Regions from separate parts of the Homo sapiens genome. Here all the other regions are linked to region 5. Evidence: fine-mapped expression QTL. A gene starts in region 5. Each other region holds a variant in brackets. All regions are shown on one strand. Distances are from middle to middle. Region 1 has its middle 49 kb from the start of LINC01958. Region 2 has its middle 23 kb from the start of TRA-CGC3-1. Region 3 has its middle 5.0 kb from the start of TRG-GCC2-2. Region 4 overlaps GPD2 (glycerol-3-phosphate dehydrogenase 2). Region 5 holds the start of GPD2 (glycerol-3-phosphate dehydrogenase 2).

What was found.
Region 1: its variant is fine-mapped to the expression of GPD2 in whole blood (INTERVAL, PIP above 0.99).
Region 2: its variant is fine-mapped to the expression of GPD2 in whole blood (INTERVAL, PIP above 0.99).
Region 3: its variant is fine-mapped to the expression of GPD2 in whole blood (TOPMed, PIP above 0.99).
Region 4: its variant is fine-mapped to the expression of GPD2 in whole blood (TOPMed, PIP 0.96).

What each region holds. Positions count from the first base shown.
Region 1 is chr2:156,615,327-156,620,457 of GRCh38, reverse strand. No RefSeq gene overlaps it. Among named protein-coding and RNA genes, the nearest start is that of LINC01958, 49 kb to the left of the region's middle. The variant T/C (reference allele first, on the strand shown) is at 1,962.
Region 2 is chr2:156,374,964-156,380,094 of GRCh38, reverse strand. No RefSeq gene overlaps it. Among named protein-coding and RNA genes, the nearest start is that of TRA-CGC3-1, 23 kb to the left of the region's middle. The variant C/G (reference allele first, on the strand shown) is at 3,065.
Region 3 is chr2:156,403,691-156,408,821 of GRCh38, reverse strand. It overlaps a transcript of GPD2 not described here. Among named protein-coding and RNA genes, the nearest start is that of TRG-GCC2-2, 5.0 kb to the right of the region's middle. The variant T/C (reference allele first, on the strand shown) is at 2,904.
Region 4 is chr2:156,478,343-156,483,342 of GRCh38, reverse strand. The region is part of intron 2 of GPD2 (glycerol-3-phosphate dehydrogenase 2); the gene reads right to left. Among named protein-coding and RNA genes, the nearest start is that of GPD2, 44 kb to the right of the region's middle. The variant C/AC (reference allele first, on the strand shown) is at 2,914.
Region 5 is chr2:156,434,360-156,439,490 of GRCh38, reverse strand. It overlaps GPD2 (glycerol-3-phosphate dehydrogenase 2), which reads right to left and starts at 3,112. Exons shown (of 17, transcript NM_000408.5): 1 at 2,978-3,112. RefSeq lists silencers at 2,991-3,400, 3,841-4,010 and an enhancer at 3,551-3,600.

The DNA.
Region 1 (5,131 bases), 180 kb before region 5:
TGTCCCGTTGTGATCCTGGACAAGTTACTTTTTCTTGTCTCATCCATAAAATGAGGATATTCATTATAATGACCACCTCAAAGGACTATCACCAGGACTGAGTAATCCAGTTTATGTCAAATGCTTAGAACAATGCCTACAACATGTGTAAAATTCAACAAATATTAGTTATCATTCATTAAGCAAAGTAGAATACAAACTATACAAACAATCTAAAATCCAGTATATCAGTGTATTCCATACACCACTTAGCCACTTCCTTTCCTGCTACATGTTCTATGACTTGCCTCTGTACCACTGGGCTCCAGGTTGCCAATTTCTTTTTGAGCCTTAGTTTTCCCATCTATAAAATGGGATTAATACTATTGATTTACTCTAGCTAAGAGGACTGTCAATACAGAAACAAAATGTTTAAATGTTGCTTGCAGATCTTTAGAAAAAAGATGCTTTGGTATACACCAAGAATTATTTTGGTATTTAGCATGTTAATATAATTTTCTTCAGCATCTTAGACTGTCTTATTTACGTACACAATTAGTGGAATGGAATGTGGAAAATGGTAGGCAGTGGTAAAACACAGGCCATTTTCCTGAGTGAAAAAAGGCCCATAACTCACAGGAGATGGATTGAGATGTGAAGGTCACTCACTTATTCACAGGAATAAATTATATTATACCATCAAGTAAGTTTCTTCAGCCAGTCGTAAAGAAGAATACGGCTAAGTAATTTACTCGCAAATGATGGTTGTAAGCCACTCACATTCTAACAAATCAAATTACATCATACAGACCACCTAGTCATGCTCACAGGGTTTCCAAATTGGGAGTGGGGAGCAGAGACACAGCCACTTTTGTTGGCTTCTCAATTCATACAAAGACCACTCCTGTTCATGACTGAAGATCAACACAGGATATTTAAATTGCTCTTCAAAGAGAAACCACTCCACTTTGATTCCCTTCTTGAATATCAAGTATCATACCTCTAAAGCTGCGTGCACAGATGAGGTATCTGCAAGGTCTGTGCAGAGCCCTTGTGTATTGGCATTGAGACTGAAGCCTTGAATAGTATAGTCTATCTTTGCTGAACTAACTGGGATGAAGAAATAGATTTTGGCCGATGTAAGCATTTTTAGTTTGAGGAGCTGAGAGGAGGCAGCTCCTAACAGGGCACACAACAACAAAAATAGATAATGGCCTTAGTCTGTTAGTGTGGCTATAACAAAACACTGAGATTGAGTAATTTATAAAGAACACAAGTTCATTTCTCACAGTTCTGGAAGCTATGAAATTCAAGATCAAGTTGCCAGCACTTGGTCTGTTGAGGGCCTTCTTGATAAGACCTTATATGGCAGAAAGCAGAAGAGCAAGCTAGCCAAATGCTTTGTGAAGGCTCTCTAATAAGGGATTTAATCCCATTAATGAAGAAGGTGTCCTCATGGCCTAATCACCTCTTTCAGGCCCCACTTCTTAATACCTTTTTTTAAATCTGAGTGTAATTAAATTCTCCTGTTAACACTATCAAAATGGCAACACTTGAATTTTGGAGGGGACACATTCAAACTACTGAGGTAGGAAGTATCGTATCTATTTTACAGATGAAAGAACTGAAGCTCCGAGAGGTTAATTCATTTGTCTGAATTTACACAGCTCAGTAAATGGCACTGAAAAATGTAATCCAGGTTTGCCTGTCTCCAAGGCCTATGCTCTTTCTAACAGGCTACTATGCCTCTCCAGGTAATCTGTGATCTGTGATGACAAATACCTTTCTTCTAGGGTGCCAACTCCAATTGGTAGATCTCGTCTCAGCAGAAAGAGAGCCATGATGGGTTAGAAATGAGAGGTGACAGCGTGCTGGCAGTCCTCACAGCCCTCGCTCGCTCTCGGCGCCTCCTCTGCCTGGGCTCCCACTTTGGCGGCACTTGAGGAGCCCTTCAGCCCACCGCTGCACTGTGGAAGCCCCTT[T/C]CTGGGCTGGCCAAGGCCAGAGCCGGCTCCCTCAGCTTGCAGGGAGGTGTGGAGGGAGAAGCGCGAGCGCGGGAACCGCGGCTGCGCGCGGCGCTTGCGGGCCAGCTGGAGTTCCGGGTGGGCGTGGGCTTGGCGGGCCCCGCACTCGGAACAGCCAGCCGGCCCTGCCAGCCCCGGGCAATGAGGGGCTTAGCACCCGGGCCAGCGGCTGCGGAGGGTGTACTGGGTGCCCCAGCAGTGCCAGCCCACCGGCGCAGCTCTCGATTTCTCACCAAGAAATCTTAGGTGATTTCTCGGTGTCTTAGCTGCCTTCCCGCGGGGCAGGACTTGGGACCTGCAGCCCGCCATGCCTGAGCCTCCCACCCCCTCCATGGGCTCCTGTGCCGCCCGAGCCTCCCCGATGAGCACTGCCCCGTGCTCCACGGCGCCCAGTCCCATCGACCACCCAAGGGCTGAGGAGTGCAGGCGCAGGGCGCGGGACTGGCAGGCAGCTCCACCTGCAGCCCCAGTGCGGGATCCACTGGGTGAAGCCAACTGGGCTCCTGAGTCTGGTGGGGACCTGGAGAACCTTTATGTCTAGCTCAGGGATTGTAAATACACAAATCGGCACTCTGTATCTAGCTCAAGGTTTGTAAACATACCAATCAGCACCCTGTGTCTAGCTCAGGGTTTGCGAATGCACCAATCCACACTCGGTATCTAGCTACTCTGGTGGGGCCTTGGAGAACCTTTGTGTGACACTCTGTATCTAGCTAATCTAGTGGGGAGGTGGAGAACCTTTGTGTCTAGCTCAGGGATTGTAAATGCACCAATCAGCACCCTATCAAAACAGGCCACTCGGCTCTACCAATCAGCAGGATGTCGGGGGGTGGGGGCAGATAAGAGAATAAAAGCAGGCTGCCGGAGCCAGCAGTGGCAACCCCCTTGGGTCCCCTTCCACACTGTGGAAGCTTTGTTCTTTTGCTCTTTGCAATAAATCTTGCTACTGCTCACTCTTTGGGTCCACACTGCCTTTACGAGCTGTAACACTCACCGTGAAGGTCTGCAGCTTCACTCCTGAAGCCAGCGAGACCACGAGCCCACCGGGAGGAACGAACAACTCCAGAAGTGCCGCCTTAAGAGCTTAACACTCACCGCGAAGGCCTGCAGCTTCACTCCTGAGCCAGCGAGACCACAAACCCACCAGAAGGAAGAAACTCCGAACACATCTGAACATCAGAAGGAACAAACTCCGGACACACCGCCTTTAAGAACTGTAACACTCACCGCTAGGGTCCGCGGCTTCATTCTTGAAGTCAGTGAGACCAAGAACCCACCAATTCCGGACACAGAAATACCTACCAACCAGGAGGCGGAGCTTGCAGTGAGACGAGATCGTACCACTGCACTCCAGCCTGGGTGACAGAGCAAGACTCCGTCTCAAAAAAAAAAAAAAAAAAAGAAAAGAAAAGAAGAAAAAAAGAAATACCTACCAAGAGTGAGAGTTTGGAGAATGGGGGCCATGCTAATTGGCTTGCCACCCCTGATTTAGCCTGACCTTCTAATGTAACAGATAAGGAACCTGAGAACCTGAGGATGAATTGAGTGGCCCAGAGTCCTGTGATATCAAGCAGCATAGTAACAGTTAGAATCCACGTCCACTGCCTGAGCACAGACCTTCTCTCTCTATCCCAGGATGCTAGTAATAAGAAATAATGTAATCATTTGCACACCTCTGACCTTACCAATATGCCTGGCACTTACTTACACCAGTTGTCCAAGACATTTAGTATATTGTCTTTCACCAAAGACAATAAGACAACTTTATATCACTCTTTTTGTTCTGTTTTATCTTAACTGTAGATATATATGTTTTACTGTTAAGAATTCTAACAATACAGAGGTATAGATGGTAATTAAATTGTCACCTTCATTAACTCCCATTCCTTTCTTTTCCCCAATATAACCACTTTTAACAGTTTCAAGTCTCCTTTAAGAACTTTTCTATGTATATCATAGATGTCCATGTGCAAATACAGAGCTTTAGGGCTTAAATTAAATGTGGTCATACCATAGAAACTGCATTGCAACTTGCATTTTTTAACTTCGCAATTGTATCACCTTTCTACTTTATTACGTAGTGCCTCTTGGAGCTCTTAAAACACCTGTTGAGGGAACATAATTTGCAAAAATCTAAACGTGTGCCCTCTAAAGTTGTCTTTACTTGAAGAGAATACACCTGGCAATTTATCCACATGTATGAGAACATTAAGACTATCTATGAGGAAAAACATTTTTTAAAGCATCATTTCTTACTTTAGAATTAAGCCAAAATCCTGAGAGTAACTTTTGACATGACCATCCTCACATATCTTTCTCCACTCATCATCAATTTCCTTCCATTTCATCTGTCAGATAGCTCTTAAACCTTTCCATTCTCCCTGTTCTCCACTGCCACACCCTAGACTAAACTATCGTCACCCCTTATCTAGACTACAGCAGTTCCTTCCAACAGCCTTCTTGTTTCTTCTGTGGCTGCTTCTAGTTCACTTTTCATTCTGCCACTAGTATAATCCAATTTACATAACCAACTTATTGTATTGTTTCTTTCTTTTGAAGTATTTAACAATTTGCAGTTTACAATCTGGTCTTGCCCCATATTTCCAAACTGAATGTTTTAATTTCTAGAGAAATCAAGACTCAGAAAAAGTACATTATAGTGTTGCAAGCTGTAGATTCTTCTCTTTTCAGGAGTATTTCTGGGAGTTGCATTTTATGGGAAACACTAACTCAGGCAACTGACTGTAACATTCGTTATGAGACAACTTTTTTTCCCTTAAATTGGAAGAGTGTTGTTAATCCTCAAGGATTACCTATTTATCTTAAAACATTTTGCCTAGCCATATGAATTTTAATTCTTCTTCTGATGTGTTATAATTACATTGCCCAAGATAGCTAAGAGGGTAGTATATGTATATATACCAATTATTATTTACACAAGTCATTTATTGTTGATTTTCTTCTCTATAAACATTATATTCTTTCATTTAGTCCCAGAAATTGACATAAGATGTTGAGCAGCAGGTTGTTATTGACTTTTTATTTCCAACCCAGAGATTTTGAAAGTAACATTTTGTTGTTTACAACCTGGTTCCAGTAACACCCCACTCTCAGACTTCACAGTGCTGCCC
Region 2 (5,131 bases), 59 kb after region 5:
TAAGATTGAATGCAGAAGAAACAAAAATGGCAGGGTAGGGGGAGTTAAATTTAAGTTAAATTTAGTTTAAAAGAAAATTGTGTTTTAAAAAACCTATAATTAATATAATCAGAAATCTAAGAGAGATATCTGTAAATCAAGAACAATATGCTATTGAAGAAAAAGAAGTGGAGAGGAAAAGGGAAAAAAATAAGTCTCTAGAAATTAAAAAATATGTCAGCAGAAATTTTAAAAATTAATAGAATGTTTGGAATATGACGTTGGGGAAATCACCCAGAAAAAATACTAGCATAGGCAAAAAGGCCAGCCACAGGAGAGGAAAAATAAGATAATCAATTATGCTAACAAAAGAGGTTAAAAATCAGATCAATAAGACTTCCAGAGTAGAGGAAGAAAAAATGGATAGGAAAAATGATGAAAGAAATAATATAAGAAAATATTGTTACCAAAGAACACATTCTCACGAGTTCTTGGTACAATGGATAAAAAGAGACCGACATCAAAGCATATGATAACATTTTAGAACACCTGTGATAAAGGTAAGTGGAAGCAGACATCATATTCGAAGAATATATCCAAACTCAGGATGCCAGAAGAGTGAAAAAATGTTTTTAATGATCCAAGAGAAAATAATGTTTAGCCTTGAATTATTTACCCACCCACACTATCAACTGAGTGTAAGTAAAAATTGAAAAATTGATCAGACAAGGAACTTCTCAAGAAAAAAGAAAGCCCTCCAATGTATGATTTGTTTTACAAAAGTGAAGGAGTACACCACAAAAGGAGAAGTCTTAGGTCTAGAAAATAGTCAACATAGAGTGTTGCAAGGGGAATTCCCAAGACAATAGCTATGCAGAAGGTCTAGAAAGTAGTTGGTCTTTGATACTGCAATGATGGGGTTGAAGAGATATCACTAAAAAAAAAAAAAAAAAAAAAAAAAAAAAAATCAACCAAACCAAAAAGAAATAGGAACTTGATATATTTGACTCTATTGATACATTTCTCCTGTCAGTGGGGTAGTTGATTTTAAACTATCAATGTAAAGATTTTTGTAGGAATTCTGAACATCAGCTTTGGGAACTAATTTATGACTAAGTCCTCAAAAGCAATTGCAATGAAACAAAAATTGACAAGTGGGACCTAACTGAATTAAAGAGCTTCTGCACAGCAAGAAAAAGGAAAAAACTATCAACAGAGTAAACAGACAATCTACAGAATGGAAGAAACTATTCAGAAACTATGCATCCAGTAAAGGTCTAATATCCAGAATCTATAGGCAACTTAATTGAACAAACAAAAAACAAATAATCCCACTAAAAAATGGGCAAAGAATATGAACAGGCACTTATCAAAAGAAGACAATACAAATGGACAACACACATTTGAAAAAATGCTCAACATGCCTAATCATTAGAGAAATGCAAATCAAACCCACAGTAAGATACCATCTCATACCAGTCAGAATGGTTGTTATTAAAATGTCAAAGAAACAGCAGATGCTGTTGAGGTTGTGAATAAAAGGGAATGCTTATACACTGTTGGTGGGAATGTGAATTAGTTCAGCCACTGTGGAAAGCAGTTTGGAGATTTCCCAAAGAACTGAGAACTACCATTTGACTTAGCAATCCCCTTACTGTGTATATATCCAAAAGAAAATAAATTGTTCTACCAAAAAGACACATGCACTTGTATGGTCATGGAAGCACTATTCACAAAAGCAAAGACATGGAATCAACTTAGCTGCTCATCGACAGTGGATTGAATAAAAAAAAGTGGGTACATATATACCATGGAATACTACACAGCCATAAACAAGAATGAAATCATGTCCCTTGCAGCAACATAAATGCCCCTGGAGGTGATTATCGTAGGTGAATTAACACAGGAACAAAAAACCAAATACTGCATGTTGTCACCTGTAAGTGGGAGCTAAACACTGGATACTCATGAACATAAAAATGGCTACAGGGGGGACTATTGGAGCAGGGAGGGAGGCAAGGGGGCAAGAGTTGAAAAACTATTGGGTACTATGCTCAGTACCTGGGTGATGGGATCATTCACACCCCAAACCTTAATGTCACACAATATACCCAGATAGCAAACTTGCACATGTACCCTGTGAATCTAAAATAAAAGTTGAAATTATTTTGAAAAAAGATTTTTGGAGGGTGAATAATATTAGATATAAAGAAAGTAAAGCAAACATAACTATAATAACCACAAGAATAAACAATAATTAGCTCAGGAAATCAAAGTCATAGAAGAAAGGAAATGTAAATCATAATAAATTACATATTCATTTATAAATAATATTTATGTGGTAAGTTGTAGCAATATAAACAAATTTGTATTCATTTAACCAAAAATTGGGGGTAGAAGAATGCTAGATCTTTATCTTTTAGATTTAGGATGCGAAAAGTAAAGTCTCAAATCAGTACCTCTATAAATGGCATTAAAATGGTCAAGAGCTATGACAGTAGTCTTTTTTCTTTTTTGAGAGAGGGTCTCACTCTTTTGCCCAGGCTAAAGTACAGTGGCATGATTCATAGCTCACTGCAGCCTCCACCTCCCAGGCACAAGTGATCCTTCCACCTCAGCCTCCTGAGTAGTTGGGACTACAGGTATGGGCCATCACACCCATCTAAGACAGTAGAGTCTAGAAGAGATAGCTAAAAGAATGGAAAGTGTTTATCTCTGGGAAAATGAACTAAGAACTACTAGGAGAGGTAGAATGGAGGACTTCTGTGTTTGGATTTGTTTTTTAAAATTGTATCGTCTCTTAGTTTATTCGGGCTGCTATAATAGAGTACCATAAACTGGATGGCTTATAAATGACAGAAATGTATTTCTCATAGTTTTGGAGGCTGAGAAGTCCAAGATCAAGGCCACAGCAGATTCAGTGTCTGGCGAGGGCCTGTTTTCTGGTTCACAGACCAGCACCACCAGTTGTATCCTCATAGGTGGAAGGGGCAATGAGCTCCCAAGGGCCTCTTTTATAAGGAGACTAATATCATCCATGAGACCTCCACTCTCATGACCCAATCCCTTCCAAAGCCTCCACTCC[C/G]TAATATTATCACCTTGTAGGGTAGGATTTCACCATATAAATTTAGAGGACACAAACATTTAGGGCATAACATATGCATGTACTACTTTGATAAAATTCTAAAATAAAGGCTAAACTATTTACAAATTTGTGAGCCACGCTCAAAGAATTATTATAGTCTCTTTCTTCCATTCTAGAAAATAGATCTATATACAGCAATATAGTGATCATTTTTTATTGCTAAGAAACTTGAATTATAAGTTCCCACATCTTTAAAGTTCATATTGATTAACTGAGTCATTTTTTTAATTGGGAAAGACTAATAAACCATCCAGTGGTAGATACTACCTGTCATCTAAGACAAATGAAAGTTTGTTAATTATGCTTAAAACACAAGTATAAATAACTTTACCTCAACTACATAAAACAAATATTTGATGCATACTAAAAAACAGAGATATCTCAACAAGATTTCTATTTTCCTTCCCTCCCTCATTTCTTCTTTTCTTCCTCCCTCCCTCTTTCCCTTTCTCATTTCCTTTCTTTTTTGTTTCACATGTCTAAATTTTCCTATTTTTAAAACTTGAATGGATATTTCCCTTATAATAAAGAAACATCTATTAGTTTAAAACACGATTTAAAATAAAATATAGGAGGGAGTGGTTCCAAGATGGCCGAATAGGAGCAGCTCCAGTCTACAGCTCCCAGCATGAGCGATGCAGAAGATGTGTGATTTCTGCATTTCCAACTGAGGTACCGGGTTCATCTCACTGGGGCTTGTCGGACAGTGGGTGCAGCCCATGGAGTGTGAGCTGAAGCAGGGCGGGGCATTGCCTCACCCGAGAAGCACAAGGGGTCAGGTAATTCCCTTTCCTAGCCAAGGGAAGCCGTGACAGACAGTACCTCGCAAATTGGGACACCCCCACCCTAATACTGCACTTTTCCAATGGTCTTAGCAAATGGCACACCAAGAGATTATATCCTGTGCCTAACTCAGAGGGTCCCACGTCCACAGAACCTCACTCACTGCTAGCACAGCAGTCTGAGATTGAACTGCAAGGCAGCAGTGAGGCTGGGGTAGGGGCGTCTGCCATTGCTGAGGCTTGAGTAGGTAAACAAAGCCGCCAGGAAGCTCGAACTGGGTGGAGTCCACCGCACCTCAAGGAGGCCTGCCTGCCTCTGTAGACTCCACCTCTGCGGGCAGGGCATAGCTGAACAAAAGACAGTAGAAACTTCTGCAGACTTAAACGTCCCTGTCTGACAGCTTTGAAGAGAGTAGTGGTTCTCCCAGCATGGAGTTTGAGATCTGAGAATGGACAGACTGCCTCCTCAAGTGGATCCCTGACCCCCGAGTAGCCTAACTGGGAGACATCTCCCAGTAGGGGCCAACTGACACCTCATACAGCTGGGTGCCCCTCTGAGACAAAGCTTCCAGAGGAAGGATCAGGCAGCAACATTTGCCATTCTGCAATATTTGCTGTTCTGTAGCCTCCACTTGTGATAACCCAGGCAAACAGGGTCTGGAGTGGACCTCCAGCAAACTCCAACAGAGATGCAGCTGATGGTCCTGACTGTTAGAAGGAAAACTAACAAACAGAAAGGACATCCACACCAAAAACCCATCTGTACATCACCATCATCAAAGACCAAAGGTAGATAAAACCACAAAGATGGGGAGAAACCAGAGCAGAAAAGCTGAAAATTCTAAAAATCAGACTGCCTCTTCTCCTCCAAAGGAATGCAGCTCCTTGCCAGCAATGGAACAAAGCTGGATGGAGAATGACTTTGATGAGTTGAGAGAAGAAGGCTTCAGACGATCGGTAACAACAAACTTCTCCAAGCTAAAGGAGGATGTTCGAACCCATCGCAAAGAAGCTAAAAACCTTGAAAAAAGATTAGACGAATGGCTAACTATAATAAACAGTGTAGAGAAGACCTTAAATGACCTGATGGAGCTGAAAACCATGGCACAAGAACTATGTGACGCATGCACAAGCTTCAGTAGCTGATTCGATCAAGTGGAAGAAATGGTATCAGTGATTGAAGATCAAATGAATGAAATGAAGCGAGAATAGAAGTTTAGAGAAA
Region 3 (5,131 bases), 31 kb after region 5:
TCATAACACAATAGCCTACCTGGCCTCACCCAAACTTCACCCAGCAGCCAAGATCCTTCAGGAGCTGGCTGCATTTGCCTTTCTTGTCTTTTTTTTTTTTTTTTTTTTTTACCAGGTGCAGTGGGGCAATCACAGCTCACTGCAGCCTCAACTTTCCAGGCTCAAGAGATTCTCCCACCTCAGCCTCCCCTGTAGCTGGGACTACAGAGGTGCACACCACCATGCCTGGCTAGTTTTTTTACTTTTTGTAGAGATCATGGGCAGGGGGTGGTCTCCCTATGTTGCCCAGACTGGTCTCAAACTCCTGGGCTCAAGCCATGCATCCAGGTCGGTCTCCCAAAATGCTGGGATCACAGGCCAGAGCCACTGCACCCAGCCTGCAGTCAGCATTTCTAACCAGTTCCCAGGCGATGCTTTCAAGACCTCTTTTAGCACTACATGTTTTCAGCTTAATCAAACTTTTTTATTTTCTCCTAAACTGCAAACTTTCCATATTTCAAAACAATATAAAAAGTTCTCAGACTATTAATGCGGAGAAGAATCTTGGTAATTTAGAACACTACTTTTGGCCAGGCTCAGTGTCTAACGCCTATAATCCTAGCAGTTTGGGAGGCCAAGGTGGGCAGATTACTGGAGCCCAGGAGTTCAAGACCCGCCTGGGCAACATAGCAAAACCCCATGTCTACAAAAAATACAAAAATTAGCCAGTGTGGTGGCGCATGCCTGTAGTCTCAGCTCCTCGGGAGGCTGAGGTGGGAGGATCATCTGAGCCTGGGGACCTCAAGGCAACAGTGAGCCGTGATTGCACCACTATACTCTAGCCTGGGTGACAGAGCAAGACCCTGTCTCAAAAAAAAAAAAAAAAAAAAAAAAAAAATTACAGCATGGAGACAGCAGAGGATTAAATAAGTGCAAGGATTCACTAACATTTGGGAGCAAAAGAGTAATATAATAAATGCAATGATTAAGAAAAATAGACATTTTTGGAGAGTAATTTTGCAATATTTAAAATGTACTCACCCTTGGATTTAGCAATTTTTCTCCCAGGAATTTATCCTGCAGGTGTTCTCATACATGAACAAAATGGCATTCATTCAAGGCATTCACTGTAGCATTGTTCCTACTAGCAAAAGATTAGAAACAGTCTAAATGTCCTCTGCCAAAGAACTGGCTCAGGTAATTATGGTACCTCACTGTCTTCATGCATCTTACAATTACAGCTAGGTTCTTTATTTCCATGCTTTGATTCTAATCCTTAGGAAACTTGGCCTTGGGGTACTGCTTATTATTGTGAGATAGAAAAAATAATGTTTTAATTCCTAGTCCATAAAAGACAGTTTAAAAAATGAACATAGAGCCACTAAAAAGATAAAGTTAGCTCTATGTGTTCTAAGAAGGATAATTTTCCAAGATATATATTTCTGGGGGGAGAAAAGGATATGAGCATAACAGTATGTATAGTATGTACCATTTGTGCTTAAAAATAAATTGCATGTCTCTCAAAAAAGAGATTAAAAAAATTTTTTTAATAAAAGTTGCAATGTTTATATCCACATAGAAATATTTGTGAAGGGAAATACAGGACACTGATAACAATGGTTTCCTCTAGGAAAGGAAACCTGGGATCTGTTGCTGAGGCTGGAGTGCAGTGGTGCGATCTCAGCTCACTGCAACCTCCACCTCCTGGGTTCAAGAGATTCTCCTGCCTCAGCCTTCCGAGTAGCTGGGATTACAGGCATGAGCCACCATGCCTGGCTAATTTTTGTATTTTTTAGTAGAGACGGGGTTTCACCATGTTAGCAAGGCTGGTCTCAAACTCGTGACCTCAGGTGATCTGCCCGTCTTGGCCTCCCAAAGTGCTGGGATTACAGGCTGAGCCACTGTGCCAGGCTAGGCATACTTTTCAATGAATACTCTCTCATACCTTTTGAATTTTGCACCATACATGTGGGTTTCTTATGAAAAAAACATATATTTTAAAAGACCCAAATAACTTGGGAAGAAGAAGAAGAAAGAGCTTTAGGAAGGGAAGTGAAAGCTATTTCTGCCAAGCGGCACAGCTCTGAAGTAGTTGAATAAATGCTTCACCCAGAGATGAGAGTCAAGAGAAAGGTAAAGAATTCCCACTCACATTTCCTCCACCATGAGGACTCTGTATGGATTTAAAATTAATTCAATTTTGGAATAAAGAAATGACTGAATTTTCCAAAATTAAGGAAGGAAGAAAGAAAAGGAGGGAGAGAGAGAAGTAGGGGAGGGAAAGGAAAAAATGCAATTGGTAGCAGCATGCAGGATGGCAGAGGAAATCTGAGGTTTCCTGGGTAGCCCAGGGAGTGAGCTGATAATTGTCTGCACTGTGTAGGAGAGATTGGCATGAGGAGGGAGAATAAGAGTCAGTGCCATTTTAAAAGGAGAAATCAGGCTTGTTGACTAATTGGATATGCTTGAGAACTAGGAATGAGCATATCGTGAGCAGGATGATTTTGCAGTGACAGCTTTCCAGGAAAAATTGCTGCATTCTCAACATCTGCATGCATCTGAGAATTACACCTGGATTCTTCACTTCCATGCCTTGATTTTAATCCTTAGGAAAGTAGGCCTTAGGGTACTACTTGTGATTCTAAAATGGAATAAGTAATGATTTAATTCCCAGCCAGTAAAGGGCAATCCAAATGACTGGCTCCACCGTTTCCCTAGGGCTAGTTTGTAACCTGGGACAGAAATAAGCTGTGTGTATTAAATCAATACGATCACTCACAGGTGAAAAAAAAAAAAAAGGCATTGCTTTGGTGACTTTGTATTATATGAACTATTTCTGTTTCTGAACTGTTTACTTTCTTCAGATGATATAAGCCTGGCCACTTTTCTATGATGAGCTAACACCAGCTAGGAACTTGGTACCT[T/C]GAGCAAGTGCTCCAAGGTGCTATGATGCAACTTACAACCCCTGCCTGTCGCACTGGGTGTCACAATGGCCAGGCTTGCCTAAAAGAGAAGATTGTGTAACACTTCACAGTGCTCAAGTGCTTTCCTTCTCTCTACCAGCTTCAATGGGAGCTTCTTATCTGAGCATGGGAACAGAGCAGACCAGGGGAAGTGTTAGTGTGCACCACCCAGAAGGCACTGTTGGTCATCCTCTGATCTCTTCAAGCTTGATCACGTGGATAATGAAATCACTGCCTACTACAGCATTCCCGATGTGAAACAGGATTACTACACAGTATATCTATGAAACACTGTGACATATGTGTTTGTCATGTTTTATTATTCAGAATTAGCAAAAGAAGTGGGGCTCTGCCTGCCTCCACAGATGCCACTGTCCTGTTTCTCCAACTTTGGCTCCTCAATTCTTGTCATTCCCTAAGGCTGCGTCCTCAGCACTCTTTTCTCTGTGTGATATTCTCCATTTCCACATTTTTGCATTTCACCCATCAGGTGATTGACTTCCAAATCCACTTCTGTAGCCTTGATTTCTCCTGGGGTTGATCTAACCACCTAGCAGGCACCTCTTCCTACTTACTTCAAAGTCAGAATTTCCAAAAATGAGCGCTTTACACCACCCCTTTCCTTCCAGTATTTTCTCTTCCTTACTTTTCTACACTACACCCCAAGTCTATCAAGCACGTAAGGTAGATTCCTAGAGTAATTTTTCTTCCTCCTTCTGTCTTGCCATGCACCTCATGCTAGAGCTGTGGCCTTGGTTCAGGACCTCGTCACCTCTCTACTCCTATTCTAACTACCTCTTGAATGGATTTCTCTATTTTTAGTTTCTCCTCTTTCTACTTCTCTGTCACACTGTTGCCTGAATATTCCTTCAAATGCTCCGAACCTTCTTTGCAACAGAGTTTACCTTATTCCAACAAGCTGGGAATGTGTCCTAAAAATTTTCTCATGGTTTTTGTTGTCTCCTTGTAGTGTTATCATCATCGACGAATTTCTCTAAATGTAAATGTTTCTTTTTTTTTTTTTTGGAGACGGAGTCTCACTCTGTTCCCTAGGCTGGAGTGCAATGGCACAATCTTGGCTCATCGCAATCTCTGCCTCCTGGGTTCAAGGGATTCTCCTGCCTCAGCCTCCTGAATAGTGGGATTACAGCCGCACCACCATGCCCAGCTTTTTTTTTTTTTTTTTTTTTTTTGGTATTTTTAATAGAGACGGGGTTTCACACATTGGCCAGGCTGGTCTTGAACTTCTGACCCCAGGTGATCCACTCACCTCGGCCTCCCAAAGTGCTGGGATTATAGGGGTGAGGCACCACACTTGGCCTAAACTTTTCTTAAACTTTAATATTATTAGTCTATATCACATCCTGGGTAATGAGTTATCTAAGTTTACCATGTTTGGGGTAAAACTGTTTCTCAATTTGTGTTAAGATTCTAGCAAAATACTGCTCAAACTAAGTTTAAAGGCTAATTTTGTTGTTGTTGTATGTTTTTTAGAGACATGGTCTTGCTCTGTTGCAAAGGCTGGAGTGCAGTGGCACAGTATAGCTCACTGCAGCCAGCCTCAAACTCCCAGGCTCAAGCAACCCTCCAACCTTAGTCTCCCAAGTAGCTGGAACTACAGGTGTGTACCACCACACCTGGGTAATTTTTTTTTAATTTTTAATTTTTATTTTTTGTAGAGACAAGGTCTCACTATGTTGCCCAGGCTGGTGTCAAACTCCTGGCCTCAGTTGATCCTTCTGTCTCGGCCTCTCAAAGTGCTAGGATTACTGGTGTGAGTTACTACACTTAGCCCACCACTTATTGTTTAAGGGCAATTTACTGACTCATATAAACACAAAATCCAGAATTTTTTCTAGTCGGGCATGGCTGCTTCTAGTGGCTCAATATCATATTAGGAATATGTTTGTCTCTTTCTTCTGGACAACCCAAACTATACACTCAACCTGTTTGAACAACCCAGCAAAAAGACAGTTTTTACTTAAAACTTCTGCAAGAGAGTTTCGGCAAGGACTTTTCATTGTCCCAGATTTAGTCACATACCCATCTCTAAGAAAGTGCAGTGCCAAGGGAAAATATTTGACGAGACCTGTTTTACACACCTGCTATTGTGACAGAGAAATACAGAAAAAGAGGCAAGTTAACCTAACACAAATCTCAAAGTATTGATTATCTATAGAACAGAAGGT
Region 4 (5,000 bases), 44 kb before region 5:
ATTATCTTTATTTTATGAAGAAATTGGAATTCTGAAATTTTTTATAACCTACACACGCTACAACAGGTTCACCAAAACCCAGCCACATTCACATAACAGACACATTCAGGAAGCTAAATGTTGCTTTATTTGGGGTCTATTCAAATAAATCCTAAATTAGATCTTATTTTGACTAGAGTTGATCATTCTTTTTTGTTATTTTTGTTTTTTGTTTTTTTTTTGTTTTTTGCTTCTTGTCCAATCTTATCTTTTGCTACTGCCTTTAAAACTTTTGAGTCATTGGTACTACTAATCAAAAAGCACTACTTCGTTAGAGCTCTTACAAATAAGGTATGGAGAGGGAGAGATTGCAATTACAAGTTAAAACAACGTTCTCAAAATTCCTGCTGATTTTAATTATCCATGCATCACTTTGCCTCTCATTAGCATAAATATTTTTCCTCCTGGGTTTTGCTGACACTAACAAAGGTAGTATAGGCTTACCTGTATTTCAACTCACCTAACACATCACTGTTATCAGGGTTTTTTTTCATATTCCCTTAATTAACACATATAACAGAGTGAACTATAGTATTTCCTAAGCCACTCACAAGCATAGAGAATTGATGTCTCTTACAAAGTGAGAGGCTATTTTGCAAATCATGAAGATCCTGTCATCAACACCTATTATAATATCAACATGCTCGAACATCACTGACTTTGGGAAAGAAGAAATTAGTTTAATTGCATTCCATTTCAAGCTACAATGATATATGAAAATTCAGATTTATCCCCCCCAAAAAAAGTTAGAGCTTTTTTCCCTAATATTGCCTGTTTTTAAAGAATGTTTCACCACAGAATTCCAATAAATGGCACTGATATTAATTTATCAAAGGAACTATATTCTTGTAACTTTTTAGCAACATATCAGTTATATAAATCAAGTATGCCATAATTCATATAAGCCTACATAGAAAAAAAGAAAGAAACAGTGGGAAATTCAAGGAACTTATTATAACAGTTAGAGAGGTTAAGTCAACAATTGGTGTTGATATTCTTGCTCATCCTCAGATCCGGAAGCAAGGAGAAAGGAAAACAGAAGAGTGTTGGTACACCTGTCTTTGAGCCATTCTTCTATAACCTAAAATGAAGGATATATCATTTGCTACTAATCCCAAAAGTTTTAACAAAGTATCCGTGAATGCAAGATCTCTAGTGACAAGAGCAACTTGCTTGCTGACTACAACCGCACTTTATATTCATATCCCTTGGGAATCTCATAAGAGGTAACACTTTTTGAAAGCTTCCTATGTTCCAGGAACTCTCCCAGGCTTCACTGCTTTTTAATAAACCTGTGCAGGAAGTACCACTGTTATCCCTATTTCATAGAAGGGAGAAAATGAGGCTGAGAGAATTTAAGAAAATCACCTATAGTCACTCAGCTATAAAGATACAGAACTAGCTGTTCACAATAGCCAAGATATGGAATCAACCTAAATGTCCATCAACAGATGACTGAATAAAGAAAATGTGGTATATGTATACATGATGGAATACTATTCAGTTATTAAAAAGAATGAAATAGGCCGGGCACAATGACTCACGTCTGTGATCCCCAGCACTTTGGGGCCGAGGTGGGTGAACTTGAGCTCAGGAGTTCAAGACCAGCCTGAGCAACATGGCAAGACCCCATCTCTATTTAAAAAAAAAAAAAAGAAAAAGAATGAAATCCTGTCATTTGCAACAACACAGATGAGCCTGGAGGACATTATGTTAAGTGAAATAAGTCAGGCACAGAAAGACAAATACTTCATGTTCTGACTCATATCTAGGAGCTAAAATAAATTGAGCTCATAGAAATAGAGAGTAGAACTGTTGGTATTAAAAGCTGGAAAGGGGAGGGGAGGGGGAAGACAGGGAGAGGTTGGTTAATACACACAAAGTTACAGCTAGATGGAATAAGTTCTAGGGCTTTGTAACACTATATGCTGAATATGGTTAACAATAATTTAGTGTATATTTTCAAAAAGCTACAAGAGAGGATTTTTAATGTTCACAACACAAAGAAATGATCAATGTTTGAGGTAATGGATATGCTAATTACCCTGATTTGATCGTTACATGTTGTATACATGCACAGAAATATCATTCTGCATTCCATAAATATGTACAATTATGACATGTCAAACAAAAATAAAGGAATAAATATGTAAATAAATAAAGGTAAGGAAACATACCTCAAAAAAGAAAAGTACAGCTAGGTGTTAGATGCAGGCAGTCTGCAGAGACTGCTCTAAAGATAACGCTCTTGGCCTTTTTGTTCCGTTGCTTATGAATGGCACACCAATCAATGAGAATTTCTTACTTCCCTGATTCTAAGAAGATAATTCCTCCCATTAAAAAGAGACCTTAGGAGGAATGATCTTCTTAGAATCAGGGTGCTTGTAATCCCAGCTACTTGGGAGGCTGAGGCAGGAGAATCGCTTGAACCCAGGAGGCAGAGGTTGCAATGAGCTGAGATCATGCCCCTGGCACTCCAGCCTGGGCAACAAGAGTGAAACTCCATCTCAGGAAAAAAAAAAAAAAAAAGAGAGAGAGATCTTGATTTTCATATTCTGAAGCTCACTCCTTGCCTATTTATGGTGCAGGGGGGAAAAAAATTTTCACATCCGGGCTTTGAGAAAGCTCTCAGTGGTTCTCAAGTTTTACCTCGGCTCACAAAGCCCAAAGCCACCACACCTTCAGACCAGGTCATGGAAGGAACAAACCTAGAATGTGTTATGTGAGAAAGACCACTCTTCTGACCCGAATAGATTTTTGTCATATCAACCACATCACTGAGGTTAAAGAAAAGCCTACATCATCACATCAGTTTTTCCAGTTAGGACCTAGAAGGTATGAAATAAATGTTAACTTAAAAAAAAAAGTGTTAAA[C/AC]AGTGCCGTTGGGCTATAATGAAAAGAAAAAAGACTAGGGTAGCCCCGTGTGAAATCCCTGTACTCCTTCCCACTCTATTCTTGTTTCATTCTCCCTGGCCACTCCCATCCCAACCTTCCCATCTTCCTGAGGACTCCTCATGGAGCCCTGACTTTAATGCTCTCTACTGCTGTTGCTCAAAAAGGTTTACTTGTTCTAAAAGTATCCCATGACCCCTTTTCCTAATTTAAATTTCCCTCTTCATCTACTCCATTCTCCCACCAGCCTGGAATTAGAAAAAGGAGACTCCTCTATGAAGTGCTACTTCCTTTCAGTAGACCTTAGACTGGATAAGATGACCTCCAAGTTTCATCCAATTAAAAGTGTATTATTAAACCAACCTATACTAAATAGTGAATCACAATCAACTTGATCTAAAAAATCTCCACACCACCACAGAGTGTCTCTGCTTGCTCCATTCCCAGTGGGGTTGGTTTCTTTGAGTGGTAAAATGCTTATATCGCAGTACTAAGACTCTTGTTCCTTGGCATACAGCTGGTCTGGGGAGAAGAAAACTCAAGCTCCCTTTGTGGAAACTGTCACCTGCTTATGGGTGGAAAATAAAGAAAAGGGGACAAGAAAATGAAGAAGAAGCCACTCTAAGACCACGCTAAAAGCCCTCAGATGCTTAACTGAGGAAGGCCTGGAATGTGGATGTTATCTGTGGCCACAAACCTCTGCAGGTGGACACAAGCAAAAGAAGTCAGCCAACCTTCATCTCCTTTCCTCATCAACTTCCTTGGTTGGAATTGAAGATTTAGGCTGCTCAGCTCCAAAAGAATAATAATAATAATTGCCCTCTCCTTAGGCTATAACAACCCTCACATTCCTCTATCTCTTCTAAATCTGACCTGTTTCCCTTAGAAAATAAAAATAATAAACCTCTAGAGTTCACTTGGCTCAACAGTGGGCACTATTCATCATTGATAAACCTAAGTAATAGCATTGTTAATATGCTTGTATGAAGAAAAGCCATACTATGAAGTAGAGTGAGACAAAAGCATCATTGCTACCACCTCTAACCCCTAACCTGCTCCCAGAAACACCAGTCTCCATGGAGGCCTCTATTCTCCCACCTACAATGGCTCTGATTCAGGCAACTGCATTAAAGGTAAGTGAAACCACATCTTATTCAATTTCAATCTGTCTTATGTTTAATTAATTTTTAAAGAATATACAATTGTTTTCTTTACATATATAAGGTAATTTAACTACAGAATTGACTCAAAGGTTTTCAGGAGCTGACCTGGCACCTAAACACTCATAGTACTATCTCATCACCAAAAATGTTTTAACAATGTACCAACTTTTATATTCAATCCATTTGTATTTAGAATATAGCCCCTGCTTTTATTTCAGGGAAGAAGCTTTGTCCTGGGAGTACCAAATGGCACAAGCCAGGGGCCAGGAAGACAGAGCATGCAAGAACACAGCAAAATGTGCCAGAACCAAAGTCAATAGGTGGCTCTCTAGGACATCAGGAACTTGGGGTTTCAAAACTAACTTATTCTTAATAAACGGCAGTTTATCAGTTGGAATCTTCTTAGGAAACTAGAAAAAATACAAAAATACAGTAGGTAAATATACCTGTAACAAGCCAATACTTAAACATCACTCTGCAGAAAAATGGAGCATACCTAGTCACATTTAAGGCCCCAGCTTCTACAAACAAAAGTGTAGCCAATTAATGTATCTCAAAGGGCAGATTTTTTTTTGACTATTGAAGTCAGGAAAATTCCCCCCCGCTAGAATGGCTCTTATTGGCAGATATTTTCTGAGAGAGGACAGCTGAGTTAATGGAGGCCTGTGGTCATTTTATGTCAATGTCTGGAATAGGTTGTTTCCTCTTCTCATTCTTGCTTTTATTTTTTATTATTATTATTATTTTTTGCCAGTCCCTATGGCTACATCGCACCTGCTACCCCCCAAATACATGCTAATGGCAGTATCTTAAAGGGACAGGAATCACCAGAAAAGAAATGCACATAGTTGGATTTCTTATGCAACTCATTGATTGCATATGCCTGTAGTAATCTTTTTCAACAGA
Region 5 (5,131 bases):
CACGTTTTGGCCTCCTAAGTAGCTGGGACTACAGGCACGTGCCACCATGCCTGGTTAATTTTTGTATTTTTTTGTAAAGATGGGGTTTCCATGTTGTCCAGGCTGGTCTCAAACTCCTGGGCTCAAGCGATCTGCCTGCCTTGGCCTCCCAAAGCAAAGTGCTGGGATTACAGGTGTGATCCACTGCACCTGGCCTATCTGACACATTTTTAAGCAAGTGTGTTAAAGGTGGACAAGAATGAAGAGTTACCATTTTCACGCCAATCCTGAGCTTTAAACTTCACAGACATAGTGACAAGTATTGATTTCTTGCATATGCAGAATTTTACTGAAGATTTCCCATATAATTTTCAACAGAAAGATCATTTTTGAAAGTACAAGATTATGTTGGCTTTTTCATACAATGAAGTACACAATAGCAAACATTCCTAAAACAAAGGTGATCTTTCCAATAGTCTTCAGGACATGTTAAGTCTCTCTGTTACTGAAGTGGCATTCCCTTCACCAGGAAGCTGTCTCCAACTACTTGAGCCAATATTAACCTTTTCCTTCATAATCACATCAGTTCTGGCCAACATCCTACCACTGGAAAAATGATTGTACGAGGTCTTATGTTGGTCTCCAATTGTTTTCCATCTATGTTTTACCTTGTTAAACAACTGTAAGCTTCTCAAAAGAGGTTAACTATTTTTTTATTTAGCACTTATTACACAATATAATGCTGCACAAGAATACAGAAAATTTCATTTAAGAAGACTAGTGTTCATATATTTGATTTCTAGTCCTCTTTCTGAAGTGTTGTTTCTGCACTTAGGATAGCCCCATGAGTCCAGGTGTTGACAAACAGAAAGAATCAAGTTTTGGAAAACCTAAACAGAAACATCATCACATTCAAAAACTAAAACTGAGAAATTAGATACTGATCTGAAAATTGCTTCCCTTCTCTAATAACCATAGCTACCACTAACTCGCCTCTCCTCTCCCCATCCCAACACACTCAACTAACCGAAAAAAATGTACGGATAATTCATGCACAACATGCAAGAATTCTTTGCCCAAATTTTCAAGCTAACTACATTCTTTGCCCATATTTTCCTACTTGAGTATAAGAAGGAAAAATATAGGATGGAAGCTAGTCTTTTGAAGTCTACTACTTGCCAGGTACATTGCTAGCAATTTTACACACGTCATAGCATTTATTATCCATATTTTGCCAATGAGACAATTGAGGCTGAGTTTTAAAAGATGACCTAAGGCCAAAGTCTTTGGCTCCCCGCTCCACAACTACCCTCAGCTGGAGTTTGTTCCACAGTTCAGTCGCTCATTGAGAAAACATTTATTGAGGGTGTATTACAAGCTAGTCACCCCTCTAGGCATTGGAGGTCACTCATTGAGAAAACATTTATTGAGGGTGTATTACAAGCTAGTCACCACTCCAGGCATTAGAGTTTTGAAAGTATGCAAGACAGAACAAGCCCTGCTACTCTCATAGAACTTACACGCTAGAGATGAAAGAAAACAACCAAACAGGATAAGTTCAGAGTTATAATAGTTTGCCAACATGAGTTATGCACAATAATCATCAAATCTTTTAAAATATCTACAATGAGATTAAATAGTTACAAAAAAAACTAAAGGGGGTGGTAACACTCACTAACAATTGGTAACACTGTGGCCCTTTTGTCAATTCCTGAACCAAGCCATTGCATCTTTGAATGAATCACAAGGGAGAAAGAAGGAAGCAGAGCTCTAATGCTGTTTAGAATTTCTTTATAAAATAAAGTGACTCTATAAGCTATGAGAATGGACAGTTGCAATGAATCCATTGTTGGTTCTCAAACCCAAAACCCCATATTTACCCATTTATTCATTAAAATATTGCTGTATTATTTCACGAGTTGATTTGTAAAAGTCAAGGGAGTGTTGTAATTTGACATAACGCCCCTGTGAGAAACAGAGGGGGGTTTCAACATCCACATCACAAGGTTCCCCAGACTGCACACGGTCTCCATTGGGCAATGGCATCCAGATGTCATGTGGTAGCCAGCAAGAACTGTAGGACTGGGACTAGAGTGGTCAGTAGCTACGAAGAAGTGCCTGGGCCCAGTGTGACAGCTGCCAGCACCGTCCACACGCCAAAAAGAAACTTCACATCTCTTTAAACTTGGAACACATGCAAAATACTAACAGTTTTGTTTTAGCAATAAAGACTCCCTGTCACTTACTAACTTCCTTCCCTCACCTATTTATACAAGTATAAGTTGACTAGCTGCTATTTCTATAGCTGCCTCCTATGATATTTATAATGTGTTGTGTGTGATTTGGGTTGCCCATGTCACTAACACTTTGCAAGAATTTGTGTTTGTAAATTACTCTGGAACTCTTCTGGGAGTGAATATTCCACTGCACAAGGTGGAAGCCAGACTAGAGACCATCTGCTAAGAGCAGCACTTCATTCACCCAGCTACACCTTCCTGCCAAAGCACTCTTTGCAAATCTATTTTTGCTGGTAGAAGTTACTACATAGGGAGTGGAGGCTGTTTTAAGTTATCAGTGTGCACCTTCCATTTCCTCCTAGGACGGTCACACGCCAGCAGCTGAGTTTCTCAAAGAAGCCTCAGCCCTCCTCCAGACTCGTTCTCACTCTTGCTTCGGAAGGGAGCAACAATCCTTATCAGACTAGCCGCATCTACAAGCTAAAAGTTTGCATGAACTTTCAATGGGGTACCAACCCTCGCCCCAAAAGTCCTGCCACTTTACTATTTTACAAATGCCGCCTCCAAAACATAAACAACGAAACCCTAGAGAAGAGCGAATCCATCTTCTGCTGGTGGGAAGAAATTCTAAATCTTTCCCGTTTCCCGCCACCACCTACCGCCAAGACTGGAGTCCCAGAACACTCGCCCGGGTCAGAAAGGGACCACTCCCCCCCTAGAATACTAGAGGCGGGGGAAGGGGTCTCCCAGGAAGCACACACCTGAGATAGATCCTCACGCGCGAGGGGCCAGCGGGCAGGAGCACCCAGTTCCTCCAGCCAGGGTGGAGTCGGCCTCCCCCCAGAATCAGAGCCTCGGCCCGGGTGCTCCCAGCGAGGCGCGCGGGGCTGTCACTCGAGGCGGGCTGGGCGGGTGTAACTCGAGCGCCGGGCGGGCCGCGCCCCCGCCTTCCCTCTTCCCGACTTCCTCCTCCCGCTCCCGCGCCTGCTCCCTCCCGGAGGCCTGACCAGGGCGGCGAGGCCGCCACCTCCTGCCCGGATACCTCGGGCCCAGGCTCCTCCGGCCCAGCGGGGAAACGCGGAAGTGGGGGCGGGAACCGGGGCCGGGGTTGGCGGGGGTGTGGGAGGGAAAAGCCAACAGCGGGCGGCGAGCGAGGTGGTCTCCGTGGCCCAATGAACGTGACTAGACGGGGACGCGGGTCCTGCCGCCGGGTGGGGTCGCGCAGCGCCACACGCAAGGGCCCTCGCCCCTGGCTGCAGTTCCTGCTTTGTGCCTCGGCGATGCCGGACTCCAGACCTCCGCCCCGCCTTGCCAGCGGGCTGGCGGACTGGAAAGCCTGAGCTAGGCCAGGCTGGGGAAGACGGTGGCGGTGTCCGATTTCCTGTGCCCTCGCCCATGCGGGCCGCCCTGGCCATCTGCCTGCGGGAGAGGAGACACTCGTCCGCCGGCACGCTGGCGGGGCTGGCTTACCTGACGACTTCTCGTTGTCCGCCCTGGGATCTGGCTTCTCCTACTCTGTACCTCCCGGCCGGCAGGCTTCCCTAGGCCTACAGACGTGTCCAGGAGGCGGGCGACCCTGCGACCCCGCCGTCAGAGCCCAGAACCCTCGCCCGGCTCCCCCGGCGGGCTCTGGAGGCGCGCCAGGCCTCCTGGCTCCCCGCCTGAATGTCAGCGCAGGGACCCGCAGGGAAGACCAAGCCCAAGCTCCAGGGGGTGGAATGCTGAGCACAGGTTCCCCAGACCCAGCCTCATACAGGTGGGGGGAGGCGGAGAGCCCCGGCAGCTGAACAGCAGGCTTCCCACTTGCAACCCCCCGCCACCCAAAAAAAAAAAACGACCCTGCCCACTGAGCATGCCCAGCTTACTTGTTGGAACTCCTAGGGCTAGACAAGCCCAAGGGGACCTAAGGAAGGCAAAGTTGGGGCTCAAATGGACCCCACTTCTTTAACAGCTTTGCTCCGAAGACCTCTGGGTGCTGTACTAATAACCTTTCTATCGTGGTATTGGAAAATATCCAGGAGATGGACGGAAATGCCTTTCCAAAAGAAGGAAGAAAATTAGTGTGAACCAAAAAGCAGTGGTATTTTTTTAAATAAAGTATTAAGTCACTCATTTAATGTCCTTAAATACCGCAGAATTCCTGTAGTTGACCCAGAGGAATGCATATATTTATTAAATCCCAAACTCAGTAACTTCAGGGAACCATCCATAGTCCACAGAGGAGCAATGATTCTCACCCTTGGACACATTAAAATTGGGGGGAGGGGGCAGGGAGGGGTGGAATGCCAGATTTCCATCCCCAAGTCCAATGAGTCAGTCTGGACGTGGGATCTGCAAGTCCTTGTATTTTAAAACTGGCTCTAAAAGTGTAGTCACTGGAGCCCGCAGCATCAGCATCACCTGAGAACTTGACAGAAACTGTACTCCAGTGACCTGATTCATAGACTCTGGGGCTGGGGCTGAGCTACCCAGATTTAACAAGCCCTTTGGGTAGTTCTGATGCACATTAAAGTTTGAGAACCACGGTTTAAAAGCTCCCCCAGTTGAATCATGAGCAACCAGAAAAAGGAAATTGTAGTTGAGAAAAGAAAAATAGTTCAGAGCATTTGAGCAATGTGAGGTATGCAAAATTTATCAGGCCCAGAGAGACCTTGAATATGGGACATAAGTTGCACCCCCCACACTCATGCTCAGAGGCGATTGTTTAAAGGCATTTTGTTCATGACTGACTACCCAACCATATCTTCATGTTCCTGGAATTTGTGATACGAAGAACAATCTATAGACAATTAATAGTTTGTTTTTTTATGTAAATTATTGGTAAACAATTTAGAAACTGCCTCTTCTTTTCCTTTAAAAACTTCCTTGTGGCCGGGCAGGCGCAGTGGGTCACGCCTGTAATCTCAGCACTTTGG